Linked DNA regions of Homo sapiens: region 1 is linked to region 2. The links come from fine-mapping of genetic effects on gene expression. A gene starts in region 2. The other region holds a variant in brackets. All regions are shown on one strand. Distances are between the middles of the regions.

Region 1 (8,516 bases), 64 kb before region 2:
CACGTGGGAGTTGCTACCGGAGCAGAATCCAGGTTGGAGTTGGAACCCTGGAGATGCCGAAGGAAACCCGTCTTCCCTACCGCCCCCTAACGCACCGGCCTGCTTGGAACGCAGTTGGAGGCTGCGCGGTACCAGTCCCATGGGGGCTTCTGCTCCGGGTCCTCCAGTCTCAGTGGTCGCTGCTGAGCCGGCTCCCTCTGACTTTTTTTTTTAGACGGAGTCTCGCTCTGTCGTCCATGCTGCAGTGCAGTGGCGCGATCTCGGCTCACTGCAAGCTCCGCCTCCGGGGTTCACGCCATTCTCCTGCCTCAGCCTCCCGAGTAGCTGGGACTACAGGCGCCTGCCACCACCTGGCTAATTTTTTGTGTGTGTTTTTAATAGAGACGGGGTTTCACCGTGTTAGCCAGGATGGTGTCGACCTCCTGACCTTGTGATCCGCCCGTCTCGGCCTCCCAAAGTGCTGGGATTATAGGCGTGAGCCACCGCGCCCGGTCCCCTCTGCCTTTTTAAGGACCCCTGTGCCACCCCCAAAGAAGGCTTCTGCTCTGCTGGAGCCCAGATGGAGGCTGGAGTGGCTGACCTCACTTGTGGGGAGGAGAGAGGTATCACAGCGGCTTCTGATTCAAGTGCTGGTGAATTGTGGGAGGTGGATGAGAACGAGCCACTTACCGTCAGCAAGTTCTGCAAGTATGAGCATGGAGACACTGTGTCTACCCTCAGTGTTCTCGGCTGTCAGCGGCAGCAAAGACTTCAGCATCAAGGATTGGGACCTTGCTCTGCAGGTGGCACTGAATTCATACCGATCTCATGCTGGGCAGGTCACCTGTGCTGCTGCCTCTCCCCGCAAGGACTCTGTGTTTCTTTCCTGCAGTGAGAACAGTAGAATTTTATTCTGGGATACTCTCTGACCAAGCCGACGTCACAGGTGGGCTGCAGTGCCTCTGGCTGCCTTCCCACCTCACTGGCTTGGCATCCTCAGCAAAGTGAAGTCTTCATCTTTGTGATGGGAATGGGACAGTCTCCCTTGTGGACACCAAGAGAGGGAGAGGTGCCCTTGGCTCAGCTGTACAAGACCAATGTGTCATTGGGCTGGTGTTTTCCTCACACCGTGTTCCCTTCCCGGCCTCTTACAGCGAAGATGGCTCACTGGCTGTGCTGGACTCCAGCCTTTCTGAGGTGTTTAGAAGCCGAGGCCACTGTGACCTTGCGAGAGATGCTGCTTGATCCCCCCTCAATCACTTTCTGCTTACCACAATGGGCTGGGACCATCAGGTCGTCTGCCACAAGTGCCCACAGAACCTCTCCCAGCCCCTGGACCTGAAAGCGTTGCTGAGTAGATTGGACTTAAGACAAACAGCAAGTCCCCCATGAGAGTCCACTTCTTTGCCCCTGTTCCCTCAGCTTGTGAGATAACACAGGAGCCTTCTGTAGTATGTTGAAACATTAGATCTGTGCCATTAATTGGCATCGTCTCGCAGCCTGAAGGAGGCTGGATGCTGGGATCCTGTAGTCACAGGAAAGAAAAGCTTTCTTAAAAATGGGCATGCAGGTTCGTCTTGAGTGTGTGTGTGTAGGTTTTGGTAGGGAGGTGGGACGGTGGGGGAGGGATTTAAAAAAAATCTATCCCACATCTCCCCTGAACACCATCTCTCCCTCACTCCCCAAAAAAGTTGACAAAAGGGTTTTATTCTTCCCATGTAGCTGTCTGAGGAATTGACCATATCTGGGTGGGGTATGGAATGTGGGCATCCCTAGGTTCCTGGAAGCAGCTCTTATGCTACTCATAGAGATGGGACTGATTTTATTTTTTATAGCGCTTAATTCACCGTTATGGGAAATGCTTCCAATCACAAAAATTCAGCCCAGCTCGTTTTGAGGAAGAGGCAGGACATGTTATAGTTTTATACAACTCATTTCCATTAAACTGAATCAGAAGTCCTTTTTCTGGATGAATTAAAAATGTGGCCTGTGCCTGTGTAATGTCCACTCCTTTCTGCCAACTCCCTTCCCTCTGCTCCCTGCTGGTGTTGTGTATATGAAAGAGGAGTGTTTTTCTGTCATAGATGCCCTAGAGGAAATTTTGTGGATGTTGGAGAGCTTAAAGGCATTTCAATTGTTAGAAAACTGACACAGACTGTTACAGAGGAATCTTTGCCACTTTTCCCACCCAAAACCAGCCTGGGGCCTGACCTCTTCTGCTCTCAGCCCCTTTCTCTGCATATAGAAAGTCTAAATGCAGTATGTGTAGACTTTTAAAGTTTTAAAATTCAGCCTCAGGAAGAAAATCAGAAATACTGGCTGGTGAAATAAACAGTTTAGGCATCTTGTAAGCCTGCCTTTTTTGAAAAACAACAAAACAAAGTAAGTGTTGGTGAGGATGTGGAAAAATTGGAACCCTTGTGCACTGTTGATGGGAATCAAAAATGGTGCAGTCATTATGGAAAACAATATGACAATTCCTCAAAAAATGAAAAATACAATTACCATGTGATCCGGCAATTCAATTTCTGGATACACATCCAAAAAAATGAAAGTAAGATCTCAAAGAGATATTTGTATACCCATGTTTAGAGCAGCATTATTCACAACGGTCAAAAGGTGGCAGCTCCCCGAGTGTCCATTGACACATGAGTGGATGAATAAAAAGGTGGTATATACATAAAATGGAATATTATTCAGCCTTAAAAGGAAAGGAAATTCTGACATGGGCTACAACATGGATGAACCTTGAGGACACCATGCTGAGTGAAATAGGCTAGCTGTAAAAAGATAAATGCAATTCCACTCATATGAGGAACCTAGAGTAATCAAATTCATAAAGACAGAAAGTAAACAGGTGGTTTCCTGGAGCTGCGAGGAAAGGGGAACGGGGGTTTATTGTTTAATTGGTGCAGAGTTTCAGTTTTGCAGATGAAAAGCATTCTCAGGATTGATTGCACAACAATGCAAATGTACACAGCACTACTGATGTGTATAATTAAAAATGGTTATGATAAATTCTATGTGTATTTCACCACAATTTAAAAAAAAATACATGAAAATTCTTTGGAAAGTATAAGATATTACAGACAAGAGGCCTCAATTATTGAAAAAAAAGATGAAACACTGTCCTGAATTTCCCAAGGGGAACAAAATCTTGAGCATGTCACCTTTGAAAGCATCATCCTGATCCATGTGTACTAAACCAAGTCTAGTGTGATATAAAGTTCCATAGGCTGCATGTGGCATTATGTGCTACCCTTCAAAATTGATTTCAATCCAAGAAAGAGAACAAATCTCGATTCCCAAGTCTTTCCACAACTTGCTTGCTTTTCAAACATAAATCATACATATTAAATCTAACCATTGTCTATAAAAAGCCAACCACACATTTAAAATGTGTTACTGGTAATAGAGCAGCTTGAGGAGGAAGAGGATGAGGGAACTGAAGGCAAGGGGAGGGAGGTCTGTGGAGAGGGTGGGGTGGAACCTGCCAGGCTCTGGGAAGATCAAGGACATTGACAAAAAAGAACAGATTTATCATCACAGAAAAGATGAGGGTAAAAAAACAACAAACAAACAAAACAGGTTACAGGACAGGACATAAGGGCAGACCAACCGTTTAAGGAAAATAAGTCTCATTAGAGGGTTAGAAGCATTAAAAAACTTTTTTCACTTTGTCCTCTGAGGAGAATATTTCTGAAATTTCTGCTTATGGTTATATAAAATCGGGCTGAGGATTTTTTAAAACGTAAAGTTGGTAGCAGACTTTGGATATTTTCATCTATATTTGTTTTTCTGCCTTTAATAAAATAGTGTGTATGTTTCATTTCAGAAGCTATCAAAGACCACATTTTGATTGGTCCACACAATCAAACCAGAAGAATGTTCCAGTTTATTGAATTTGTCTCCTTATTTAAGAAAAAGAAAATTAAGCCAGGAGAAGTTAGCGCTCCATCCACCAGCTGGGTCTTTGATGAAGGGAAGTGAAATGAGGATTCTGCACAGGTGGGCGGTAGCTGGTGGAGTGAGCGCCCTGCAGGTGCAAGTCATGACAACAAATGGGGAGGGATGCTGTGAAGACATTGCCCCATTGTGTTAGGAGAATTCCCAGACACCCCATTCCACTCCTCCAGCTCTCTCCAGGATGGAAG[A/G]ATGGGGAACTATGAGGCGTATGCACCATCCAGGAAGAATCCTAAGTCACATTTACCCTGAAAAGCATGCTTCTGTCCATGAATGTCTTCCACCCTGTGGCTGGGGCTTGGGGGCGGGTAGGGAACAGTGTGGCTGGTGATATTTATGCTTTTCTTCATTTACCAAATATCTTGTAAATGGAACTCTTTCTTTTTTATAAGTCAGTGTTAATGAGTGTAGACCTCAGAGATTTAAAATGAACTATCTGCAAATCTGTGACATTACACTAGAATAAATGTTTTATTACCCCCTCAAATCCAAGTCTCTCTTAAAAGATGTTGAACAGAAAGTACTTAAAGGAATATCTTACATTTTTCATCCATAGTTCAAGTTAAATGATAGGGTAATACTAACACATTAGCTGTCCTTTATACATATTAATCAATAATGCAGTTTTATTATCAATAATTGATTTAAGTCTCAGTAGTGGACAATTTTAAAACAGTCTAAATGTGAAAGTTCAGCATTCTAATCGTTCACAGACAAGCAAGTTAGTGTGAATATATGACACTATGTAAATGACAATATATACATCCAAGTTTAAGTTTACAGTCCAATATAAGGTTACAATTATGTCAAGTCTTAGAAGAATTTTTTTCATAGATACGGACTTCTAACCTATGTATATCACTCTTCTGTTACTATACTTGATAAAATACATTTTGCTAGCTAGAATAGACTTATACTTAGAAAGTTCCATTTACAGTTACACAATTTAATAAAGTTTGATTAAATGAACTGGCAAAATCTGTAATGTTACAAAGTAATAAAATGTAAAACTAAAACTATGGCACATCTGAAAATCAAGAATGACTTGTTTGGCCCACATTACAATTCCTGTATACTAGAATAATAATATATGTTATGTCATAATTTTTCATAAATGATTTTTCAAAATTCAGCAATAATTTTAAATAAATGTGTGCATATATATACGTTTTGCATATAGTTACACAGGTTTCCCAACTGAAATAACTAAGAGAAATAAAAACAGAGAAAAACCTGCCTCTGTGCTGGAAGGAGGGAAGGGTGACCTGTCAATAAGTGTTTGTTGAATGAGTGAATGAATCATGCAAAATTCTAATATCTTATTAAAATAGGAGATAACCTGCCATAGCTAGGACCCAGAAATAAAGAAAACAGAGTTACTTTCATTGTATCTGGGGATCATCCCTTAGCTATTTCTCTCAGTATTTTGAACCTATGTTAATAATGGATATCAAATTTTTCAAACACCAGCAGAGGACAAGGAAGAGCTAACATTCTGACCCCAGTGAAAGTGGACTCTGGTACTTTCATTTAGTCACAGGCTCGCTCAGGGAGTCTTGTTTCTTATTCCTCACTAATAGTCCCAGTCATACAAGCACTTGAGATTATTTTGGCTCCATCCTACTTCCCTGTAGCTACTATGGCCTCCCACTCTCTCATGGACATTCATCGTATTTTGCTCTTGCAACATTCCCTCTCTTGGCCACACTCCAATGCAAATGATTTACTGTAATATGTCTCCACCTTCACACCTTGTGAGAATGAAATGAAAAATCCTACAATTAATTCCTAAGGAAAACAGTACCTTCTAATGCCACCAAAGGTATTGGAAGCAATTATTATTAATTAATAATATAATTATTATTAATTGCAATTGTCGTTGCAAACAGCTTCCAAGAGGGTGGTAGACAGCCAAGACTTTTTATTCAAATAGCTGTTTTCATTCATAAAGCAATCTACTAAATGATAATGTCATGCTTTTTGGCAACATCCGTATTTATGGGTTCTCCTTTTAAGAATTTTCTCTTACATTTGGCATGCTCAGTACAGGACAATACTTCTTAGGAAGTTTGATGGATATTTTTCTTTTGTACTTTTTTAATCAACAGAAACTACACTGATTTTGATTTGCTTAAACAAAAATTTTTTTTCATATTAACAGTCATTTTACCATAGTGTTAGAAGACACCATGGTGGAGGTACTTGCAGTGAGATAACATCCTGCATATTAATCCTTGTGTTTTTCTCTCCTCCACTTCCTGACTCTTCCCTTCATCAGCTGGAGGCAATCACGTTGCCTGGGAGAGAATTAAGATTGTTAAAGCAGGAATTTAAGGAGAAAGGAACTATTTTAATATTATTTTTGAAGTAGAAACTAGGGTTTTAAGATTCAAAAAGAGAAGCTCCAAGGAGACCAGAGCAGAGAGTTTATAACCTCTTCAAAAAGAAAGAGTCAGCCAAGAGTCAGCTCCACCCCTTGGAAACATCAAGAAGCCCAGCCAACACCTACAGACCATCCCTTGCCATTCCTGTGAGCTCATCATCATGCCCCTGGCAGAAAAGCTACAAGTTTCTTCTTGTGACTTTCCTATGAATGCCTTCCTCGCGTTGTTGCCTATACATGGACCGTTGCTCATTCAACAAAAGCCAACTTCTCACCATTCCTTCGCCTTCTCTCCTGCCCTGAGACTTTGATGAGCTCCCATCTGAATTGCCATGGATATGTACCCACTTCTGGAGGCACTCAAAAGCAAGTCCCCTGGATCTGTTAAAAAACAATGTGGCTGCCTATAAAATATAAAAGTCAAAACAACAGTAGCTTAAGGAAGATAGAAGTTTATTTCTCTATGATGTAATTGATATCTAAAGATGAGCAGTCTAGACTTGGAATAGCAGCACTGTATTCATAATGACCTCAGGCTGCTTCTGTATCCCTGCTACATTATCCTAATGCTGGCTTCCATTTTCAGGATCACCTCTTGTCCTAAGATGGTGGGACAAGCTGTCACATTTATATGCTCCAGCTATCACATTTGCTTTCCTGACAGGAGAAAGGGTGAATGCCCACATCTCCCAGCTGAGTCAACAACTTTAAACAAACTTTCTGAAAGTCCCACACAACATTTCTGATTAAATCTCACTGGCTAGGACTTGCCTTCATAGCCACACATAACTGAATAAAAGTCTGAGAAATGTAGCATTTTATGTGGATGCATCCCCTACACCTTCCCCACTGACCCCTGCCAAAAAATAAAAATAAAATAAAATAAAGTGAAAGAGGAGAATGCTTATTGGAAATTAACTCACCCTACCATATGCCCCTTTCCTAAAAAAAAAAAAAAAAAAAAAAAAACAAAAACAGAGCTGGGTCTTTGAAGAGAGTTGATGTGGAATTAATTCACAGGTACATATCTGGGGGAGGACTGGGTAGTGGGGAAAAATAATCCTTGTTTCATGAGAAATATATAGATAAATAACCAAGTAATTAAGGTTCCATTAAGATTTTTAAATGGCAATTAACAAAGCCAAATATTTCAAGTGTGTTATATATAATACAATTATCTATGTTACATATAAAGATGAAGATGATTATATAAAATATAAATTATATTAAAAATAAACATACAGTAAATTATGCATAATATATAGATATGCCATCCAAGGCATTTATGTTATTTTCTCCTTGAATGATCAACATGACATTCACCAGAAACTGGATATGTCTAGAGACATCTTGATTTGCACCTAAAACATGAAGAGCCGCTTTACCAAAGGCCTTGGGAGAGACAGGTGTCCTAGAGTCTAGAACTAATTCAGCAGCTCAGGATAGAAAGGAGAGCAAAGAACCTGTGACACCATAAAAAACTTCAGCAGCAGTAACCAACCATGATGGCAATTAACATAACCAGCAAAATAATAGCTAATATTCGTAGAGTGTTTACTATTTGGTAGGCCCTGCAATGACTTTACTCTTTAATAGGCACAACAACTCGATGAGACTAGAACTATTATCACTCGTTTTCACCAGTGAGAAAACTGAGGAACAGAAAAATGCAGTCACTGAAGTCACTTGTAGACAAGCGCATTGCACAATTAATCAGCGTCAGAGCCAAGAATAAAACCAGGGTTTTATTCTGCTCTGAACTATACCTTCTCCTCTTCCAGAAGTGCAGACATCTGATCAGAAGAAAAGATCACATGATATCACAGAATCATCAGGATGGTGCTGAAGATGAACAAACTGAAATGTCTGAAAGTTTTTAAGAAATTCATAGGCTGTCTTTTAAGTATGATGTTAGAGACGCCAACCAAATATTGCTCTTCTCAGGGGTGGGTCATTTCAATTTCATTTTCAGAAATTTCCAGTTGATACTTATCACCACAAATGAAAGCTATAAAGAAAGACTACTTGAAATGCATGTCAGTCCTTTTCTTTAATAAATTTGGTTTATGGTGAAGCCACAAGACAAAATATGTTTATCCCCAGGAGGTATAAACAACTCAGTGCAGGTTATAGGAATCTCAGTTTTGTATCCAAACAGGTGAAACATTTTTACCACTGACCTTCAGACCAT
Region 2 (8,506 bases):
TTAGGTAGATGATGGATATAACACTTTTCTCTGCATATAGTAGACACTCAGTGCATAACTATCGCCTTCCTTTTCCCTCTACTCAGAAACAAGGACATCTGGGACCACAGCCACATACTTACCTCCAGTCGTTTCATATCAACCAACTGAGCTCTAACATTTTTCTGCAGAAGCTGGATATGCTGTACTTTTTCTATGACTTTGCGCTTCAGGACTTCAATTCTGCTTCTCAGATCCTCTGACACTCGGTTGTAGGTATTATCACGGTCTGAAATCGAAAATATGGTTATTGAAGTAGCTGCTGAGTGATTTGTCTGTAATTGCCAGCAAAAAAGAAAGGAAGAAAGGAAGGAAGGAGAAAGAAAGAAAGAAAGAAAGAAAGAAAGAAAGAAAGAAAGAAAGAAAGAAAGAAAGAGAAAAAAGAAAGAAAGAAACTAGCTTGTAAATATGCCTAATTTTATTTTGGTTACAGTTTAATCTGTGAGTTCAAAACCTATGGGGCATTTGACTTTTGGATAATGTTATGCCCTGCAGCCTTCCATGAATGCCAGTTAAGATGTCCTAATAGCAATTAGTAATCCCAAAGAAATATAGAAGAAGAACTTTCTTTGGAATTTTAAAGGTGTAATTTGGAGTTAAAATAGTTGGTTTGATTGCATTTCAATTATTTTATAACATCCTTAATCAAGGGACTTGAACATATTGGATTTTCTTACTGATGAGCTTTTCTTTTTAATCTATAGATTTGAAATGGTTCCTAAGCTGTTTTGGGTCAACAGGATCACTCACTTGCCAGCTAGTGTTGCATCACTGATTTTAAATGTCAAGTGTTTGTGAAGGTGTAAAAAGGCAAAGCAAAACTTGAGAAACTGAGGACTCCCTAGACTCGCTGTCCATGCCCAGAGTGAATGCAATGTTTCCTAACCCTAATGAGTAGACTGTGAGAATGACGTAGCTTGACCCTATATTTTAAATTTAAAAATCTACCTAATCAGCTCAGTGGAGTCTGGGAGTTGAATTCCCAGCTCTGTGTCTTTGAACAAGTTCCTTGACCTCTCAGTTTTCACCTTTACAAAGCAGAAACAAAAATATCAACTCAAAGAGTCTGACCCATCCTACTTTCAGTATATACTGTTGAAAAGAACACATTTAAATTCTTGTTTTTAATCCAAAATTCTGACTTATTTTGTGACCTTAAACAATCTCAGTTAACATCTTTTACTTTGAAAAAATAACGAAAACAAAAGCTCCCTCTTAAAATTTTCAGGGATATTATGAAGGTATGTGTTTCTACACTAAGTACTTTGGGATGAAATTGTCATAGATATAAGCGGATATCATATTTATTTAGGATTTTTGTTGTTTCTGTTATAAAGTCAAAGCAGTAAATATGTAATACTTACTATTGGCTGAGGAAAAATCGCCTCTCAAAATTTCCATTATATTAGTGGTCAACGAATGAGAATCCTTATTGTTCTTCTGATATTCAAATAGTGAATTTTTGAGCTTATTTATTCTGTTTGTAAAATCTTGATTGACTTCATCAATCAACCCTTTCATCCTGCAGCCAGAAGGGCATTTGTAGTTCTGAAAGTGAAGGGAGAAAATTACAGTAAGGATCTATCTCTCAGATTCAGAATAATTTTGCATGTTTCCATGCAGCCCCCATTTCTTCCTACCCTATCTCTTCCAGATAAGTTGGCTTAAAAGTAGGTAAGAGGACTAGTTAGAGGTCGCAGAGAAACTCTGGAATGAGGGTCCACTTAGCCATAAATTAGGTGCCAGGAAATTGAGGCCACAATACTCAGGAGCCTGGTTTTGCCTGAGCATGCAACTGAAATCCTGTCTGTTCACCCACTAATGATCCAGAGTTGGGGAGGTAAATAAACAGTGCTCTTGGGAGTAGGTTCCTTTTCTTTATTTGCTATGTAGGTAACTATTCAATTATTTTCTATTTAAAAAAGTTTCTGGGACCAATCAGGTCAGCCTGTGAGCCCCTCTAGCATCAGAGGGAAGGAATCTCCTGCTTCCCCCGCTGACTGCTTACCCAGTCTTCATCAGAGCAGAAGGGCCAGTCTGAATCTTTGCAGGCAGATTGATGTCTTTCCACAACCCTTGGGCCACGCACGCCTCCTCCTTCAGCTAGAAAGTCACCTTCACCACTATCTGCAGTCTTTAAAGATTCATTCACATACACAAAAGAGAGCAACAGCAATGTTAGCCAGAAGAGGAGACAGTGGCATGCCTACAAGTCCCCAGGAAGAGATGGCACTCTCACAGAGATTAAGGAGAGCAGACACAGGGCTTCGGCAAGCTTCAGGTTTCTTATCTTCAAATGGAAATCCTAGGACCCATTTTATGGAGTTGTTATGAGAATTAAAGGAGACAAGGTGTACAAATTTCTTAACTGTGTGTGACACTTAAATAAGCATTTGATAAATATTAGGAGTTTTAAAGAATCCATCCTAAAAGGAAAATTATTTGAATCTATAAAATCAGTTAAATTTTACCTTTTCATTTTTACTAATGACTGCAGACAGAAAGTTGAAAACTACTGTAGAGCTCTTTCTCCTGTAATTGCTGCTTCAGTAGAAAAACCTAGACTATCTTAACTGAATGTTCCTCTCTCCTTCAAGTTTCTATGTAACCTTTAGAGATGGATTCATAATTTAAAAGAATACCATTACTGCGGAAAAGCGTATTGCCTTACTAACTAATCTCTTCTGATACTGCAAAGATATTTCCAAAGATAATTCGTTTGCTTTTTCTTCTGTCTTGACAAACACAACAATAACCTTTCAGCAAAACTGTACTAACACTAAAAGTTCTGCTTATTATGGACAAGTAGCAAGAAATTAATAACTAAAGAAAACAAATCTTACCATAAAATGTTTTATTCCATTAACTAGCATTATAATGCACCAAGGCTTTATAGGTACAAGGATGGCAAATAATTCTTGCCCTTTTTAAAACAAAACAAAACAAAATGTGGTAAGACTGAATGACAGATGCTAAAGTTTCCCTTGTGAGTTTGTACACTCTCATCCATCTAAGATCTTCCTCTTGGTGTCATATTACCCTGTATTCTTGAGGTGTCAAGCCCACCCAGGAAATTTCCTCCCAGGCCTGGGGTCATAAAGCTAAGAGTGTGTCAGGACATAGAGCAGGTAGACTCTGACCTCCAGGCTCTTTGTGGAATAAACACCAGAGAGAAAGCAAGAAGAAAAAATGAAAAGGGCCATACCCATGCTGTGCCCACCACACTTAGGACCAGGCAGACGATCCTCATGGAAAACATCTTTTCTAAGGGTGGGGCTGGCTCCTGAGGAGCACTCCAGCTGAAAGAAAGGATTGCTGCCACTCCTAGTTCCCATCCTATTTAAATCTGCAAGAGGTTTGGTTAATCATTGGCTTTGTCCTGTGTAGACAGTCAACCCTCCCTCTACGTCCTTTGTTCCTCCTATGCTGTTGGTATCCCAGAAATTCTTGCTCAATTCCCCTCAGCTTGTTTGCTTCCGATAAGCTGTTGCAAAGGTAGCATTTGATTCTCCAGTCAACAATTAGGAGATCTCACATTCCAGGAACAGGGTGGCTTTGAGAATGAAAAGAGGAGCATAGGAGGGTATATCCATATTTCTAAACGTGAAAGAATATAGAAGGTGCTTAGGTAAGCTAGCTGTAGCCCCCAGTAGTAGTGATTTAGCAAACAATATTTCACTTTATGCAGAAATTAGGGTTGGGTGATCTGGCTTATAAAAAAAATAACTTTGGGGATAAGCTGGCCCTGAAGGCTTTCTATAAGTTTATTTAGAACATATTACTTTTCTCTATTTAAAATATTAAGATGACAGCAGCCCCAGGAACAAAACATCTTGGGTTCATAATCCAAGCTGCACCACTTCCCTGCTCTATGTTCTTGGACAAGTTACTTTACCTCTTTATACTTCAGTTTCCTCATTTATAAAATAAGGATGCTGATAAGCTACCCCATGCTTTTATGAAGAATAAATGAGTTAATTCTTGTAAATCTCTCAGAACAGTGACTGTCACATAGGAAATACTCAGTGAATTATGGGAGATCATAAAGTGCCATGAAAAATACCATTTATTTCCTGTTTCTGTGCTAGCAATCTCATTTCTGAGTGTATTTCCAAAGGAAATGAAATCAGGATCTTGAAGAGACACCTGCATTCCCATGTTCATTGTAGCTATATTGACAATAGCCGAGATATGAAAACAACCTGTTTCCACTGATGGATGAGTAGATAAAGAAAATGTGTATATATATATATACACAATGGAGTATTACTCAGCCTTGAAAAAGAAGGAAATTCTGTCATTTGCAGTAACATTGATGAACCTAGAGGGCATTATCCTAAGTGAAATGAGCAGATATAGACAGACAAATACTGCTTAGCTGGTCGTGGTGACAGGCACCTGTAATCCCAGCTACTCAGGAGGCTGAGGCAGGGAGAATCACTTGAACGCGGGAGGTGGAGGAGGTTGCAGTGAGCCGAGATTGCATCATTGCACTCCAGCCTGGGCCACAGAGTGAGACTCCTTCTCAAAAAAAAAAAAAAAAACGGAAAAGAAAGACAAATACTGTATGATCTTTCTTACATGTGAAATCTAAAATAGTCAAACTCACGGAAGAAAAGTGTAGAATGGTGGTGGCCAGGGCCTGAGGCATAGGAGAAATGGGGGAGATGTTGGTTAGAGGGCACAAAGTTTGAGCTATGCAATATAAATAAGTTCTGGAGTCCAATGTGCAGCATGGTGACTATAGTTGATAATATTATGCTGTATATTTGAAATTTGCTAAAAAGGTAGATCTTAAGTCTTCTCACCACACAAAAAGATAACTATATGAGGTGTTTTAAGTGCTAATTAGATTAATAGTGGTAATCATTTCACAATGTTTATGTGTATCAAAACACCAATCAGAGAGAAGTTCCCCTTTAAAGGAAAATAAAAAAACAAACATCCAGCTGTACAACCTAAATTATGCAATTTTTATTTGTCAATTATACTTCAATAAAGGTAAAAAACATCTTCAGCTTACATTTACCAGATGTATTAGGTTGGCGGAAATAGCAAATAAAAATAAGAGTGTCCCAGTTAAATTTGAATTTCAGATAAACAACAAATCTATTTGAGTATAAGTATGTCTCATGTGATATTTGAGACACACTTAAAATTTTTTTGTTGTTCATCTGAAATTCAAACTTTACTGGACATCCTGTACTTTATCTGGCAATCCTACCTTGCCTCAAATTCTGCTTCCTACATGAAGCCAATCCTAATAGAGTAATAGCTAATGTGTATTGAATGTTTACTAAGTCTTGGGTTCTTTGCTAGACATTTTGCAGGGTACCTGATTCAATGTCCAATTAAAAGGAATCTCATGTTCTTTCATACTTCCTTAGACTGTGCACCACTAATGGCATTTATCATTATAGGAGTACCGTCTGTCTCCTCCACTAGATCATAAACTTGAGAATTGAAATGTTTTATTGGTCTTTATATTCTCCCCAAAAGGTGTGGGCCCTCATTGAGCAAGAAAGCATAAGTGGGTTCCAGAGATGCGAAGTTGCCTGGCTGCCTCCCCCAGCACTGCAGACGTGTGAAGCTTTCTATAAATGGATGGAAGCCCTGGTGCAAGGCAGTGCACTGTCTGCTCTATGGAAGACTCCTTGTCTGATCAAGCTCACCCCTGAAGCAGCTTGCTATGATTTTAGAGTTAACTGCAGAGCAAAGAGGAAGCCCCAGAGCCCCATCCAGGTTCCAGAGGGCAATGATTCCATGAAAAGCTGGGTTACACTCACTCACAATGACTGCACTGGCAAAATGTCAGGATTAGATAGGAAGGTGAGGCTTGATCTCTGCACACATTTTCCTATGCCCACAAGAAGTGCCCCTTTGGGAGGTGAACATGGTATATAGCAAAGAAGTTCCCGAGAGTAACCTGGTAGGCCTTAGGTGAGTCGGCTGAACATAATCTGATTGAAGGTAAATTAACAGAAAACAATTTGGTTGAATGCCACCACCCTAGTGCCATGTCAGGGTGTTTCCAAGGATGCCACCTGAGGGCTTTATCCTTGCCTCTCAGAATCAGCACATCTCACACCCTTTCTTACTCCTGGCCTCTGCTCACATGGCATCTACTCAGAGAGGCCTTCTCTGGCCACCTGATCTAAAGAGCTGCCACTCTCGCATGTCATTCCATTGACTCTGCTTGGTTTTTCCACGCAGTACCTTATAACTCCTGGACAATGTGCATTTGGGAAGGTATTTGTTTATTCTGTGTCTTGCCTACACAAAGCTTCCTGAGGCCAAGGCACAAGGACTGGCACAAATGTCAGGCATAGAGCAATTGCTGCTCAGTATCTGCTGGAGAAATGGAAGGCTGTCACCATATGGTGGTGACAATGCATGGTGGGCTTTCCAGCATGTGAGACCTGGATTCCAGCTAAGTGACATGGGCAAACTATTTAAATTCTCTGAGCTATAAATGGGATGATGATATTTGTCTTACAGGATTGCTGTGAAGATTATGTAAAATGGTGTATGTAAAATGTTGGCCATACACAGCAGGAGCTCTAGAAACAGTAGCTTTTATTGTTCCTAGAATATCCCAATGCTCCATGATAAAATGTTCCCTTGTTTTGACTGTAGTACCAGGAGTCCCTAATGAGGCACTTCTGTAGCTCACTGTTTGGCCCCACACTGCAGGCTGCTCACTAGGCTGGGCTCTCTGCCCCATGAACAGGCTGTATTGTAAGCTTTGGAGGAGTAGGTTTTGTTTAGCTGGAAAACCATGCAAATTAATAGGCATGATACGAGTATCATTTTTTAAAAAGCATGTGACAATAAGCGTATCTTTAAATGTGCAAAACTGGAAAAAAGATGGAAGAAATTTTCAGTTGCTTAAATTATAATCTGCCGTGCATTGGCTTTTTCTTTTTGAGATGGAGTCTCACTCTGCCACCCAGGCTGGAGTGCAACAGCGCCATCTCAGCTTACTGCAACCTCTGCCTCCCGGGTTCAAGCGATTTTCCTGCCTCAGCCTCCTGAGTAGCTGGGATTACAGGTGCCCACCACCATGACTGGCTAATTTTTTGTATTTTTAGTAGAGATAGGGTTTCCCCATGTTGACCAGGCTGGTCTTGAACTCCTGACCTGAGGTGCTCCACCCACTTCAGCCTCCCAAAGTGCTGGGATTACAGGCATGAGCTACTGCACCAGGTTTGTCTTTTTCCTATAGATAACTACATCCTATTTACCTTAGCTCTAATGAGAAGGATGTTTGATATATCTATCCTTTTGAAGTTAATGTAATATAAACATTTAAATATAAATGTTAATATAAACATTTGAATGCAGGAATTTACACATTTGTTATGCCATAACTTTTGGCATGACTAGAATAGTTTTTACTAGTTTTAATAGCTTTATTTGTGTGGTATATAATGTATACAGAAAGAGTAGAAATTCTATAGCTATATGTTTCAGTTTTAAACTATATCTACTCATCACAGCTTCCACAGGAAAAGTAAAATATATAACCAGTTATCTATATATTTGCAATTGTATAAATACAACTTAAAAATACAAAACAAAACAACAGTGTTATTTTGAATGGAATATTTGTCTTACCCTGGGCTGACACCAGAAATTAAATGCATTGATTTCTGAGAGCAGCTCACTCATTCACTCATTTGTCTAAATTTAGCAATCATTTATCCTATGTATATTATTTCTCTAGTCCTGCATACTATGTGCTTAAGATAAAAAGGCAAACAATGTATAGTCTTTTACCTTCAAGTTGCTTACAATTGGCAAGCAAGTCAAATACGTTATGCAGCTGAGAATTAAGTTAAACTATGTAAACTTGACATTTTTGTAGGTCAAAACAATAATATCTACAGTTTTATACGGTTTAATCTAATATAAAACAATGGAAAAAATCTGTAAGCTATATGCTGAGTTCTGTTAGAACACACAGCAGAGAGTGTTATATCACTTACGTATTGCTTTTTGTTTTGTTTGTGTGAGATATTTCTTAAAAAGTCAGATTTAATTCAGGTCTCAAAATACAAGATGTTTCTGAAAAATTCTTATGTCATCTATCATAAAAATCTACATGAATCTGTACATTCTTTCCAAAGACATTTGGTATCCTAATAACAAGAAGATAATAGTACTTTGACAGGAACTATTTTGTTAAAACAATATTAAGTGCATTCTTGGAAAGTACTAAAATTATCTTCTAAATTTTGAAATGACTAAATTATAAAAATTTACAAGATTTTGGCATTTATAAATACAGTCTGATCTGTAATGAATTCACTGGACAACATTGGCAAAGCTATTTAACTTTCTGTAGTTTTTTTATTTTTCTTTTTTTTTTTTTTTTTTTTTTTTAGAGACAGGGTCTTGCTCTGTTGCCCAAGCTGGAGTGTAGTGGCACAATCATGGCTTACTGCAGCCTGAACTCCTTGGGCTC

Alleles and levels. Alleles are on the strand shown, and positions count from the first base shown. SD is a standard deviation of normalised expression in the study named.
For the expression in lung of the gene that starts at base 3,353 in region 2, G is the high allele of the variant in region 1 and A is the other (moderate effect, 0.65 SD a copy in GTEx).

The links.
Region 1: its variant is fine-mapped to the expression of FGA in lung (GTEx, PIP above 0.99).

The regions. Positions count from the first base shown.
Region 1 is chr4:154,523,473-154,531,988 of GRCh38, forward strand. It overlaps the pseudogene WDR77P1. Among named protein-coding and RNA genes, the nearest start is that of PLRG1, 23 kb to the right of the region's middle. The variant A/G (reference allele first, on the strand shown) is at 4,134.
Region 2 is chr4:154,587,390-154,595,895 of GRCh38, forward strand. FGA (fibrinogen alpha chain) reads right to left here and starts at 3,353. Exons shown (of 5, transcript NM_021871.4): 1 at 3,245-3,353; 2 at 2,048-2,173; 3 at 1,404-1,587; 4 at 123-268. The coding sequence starts at 3,298.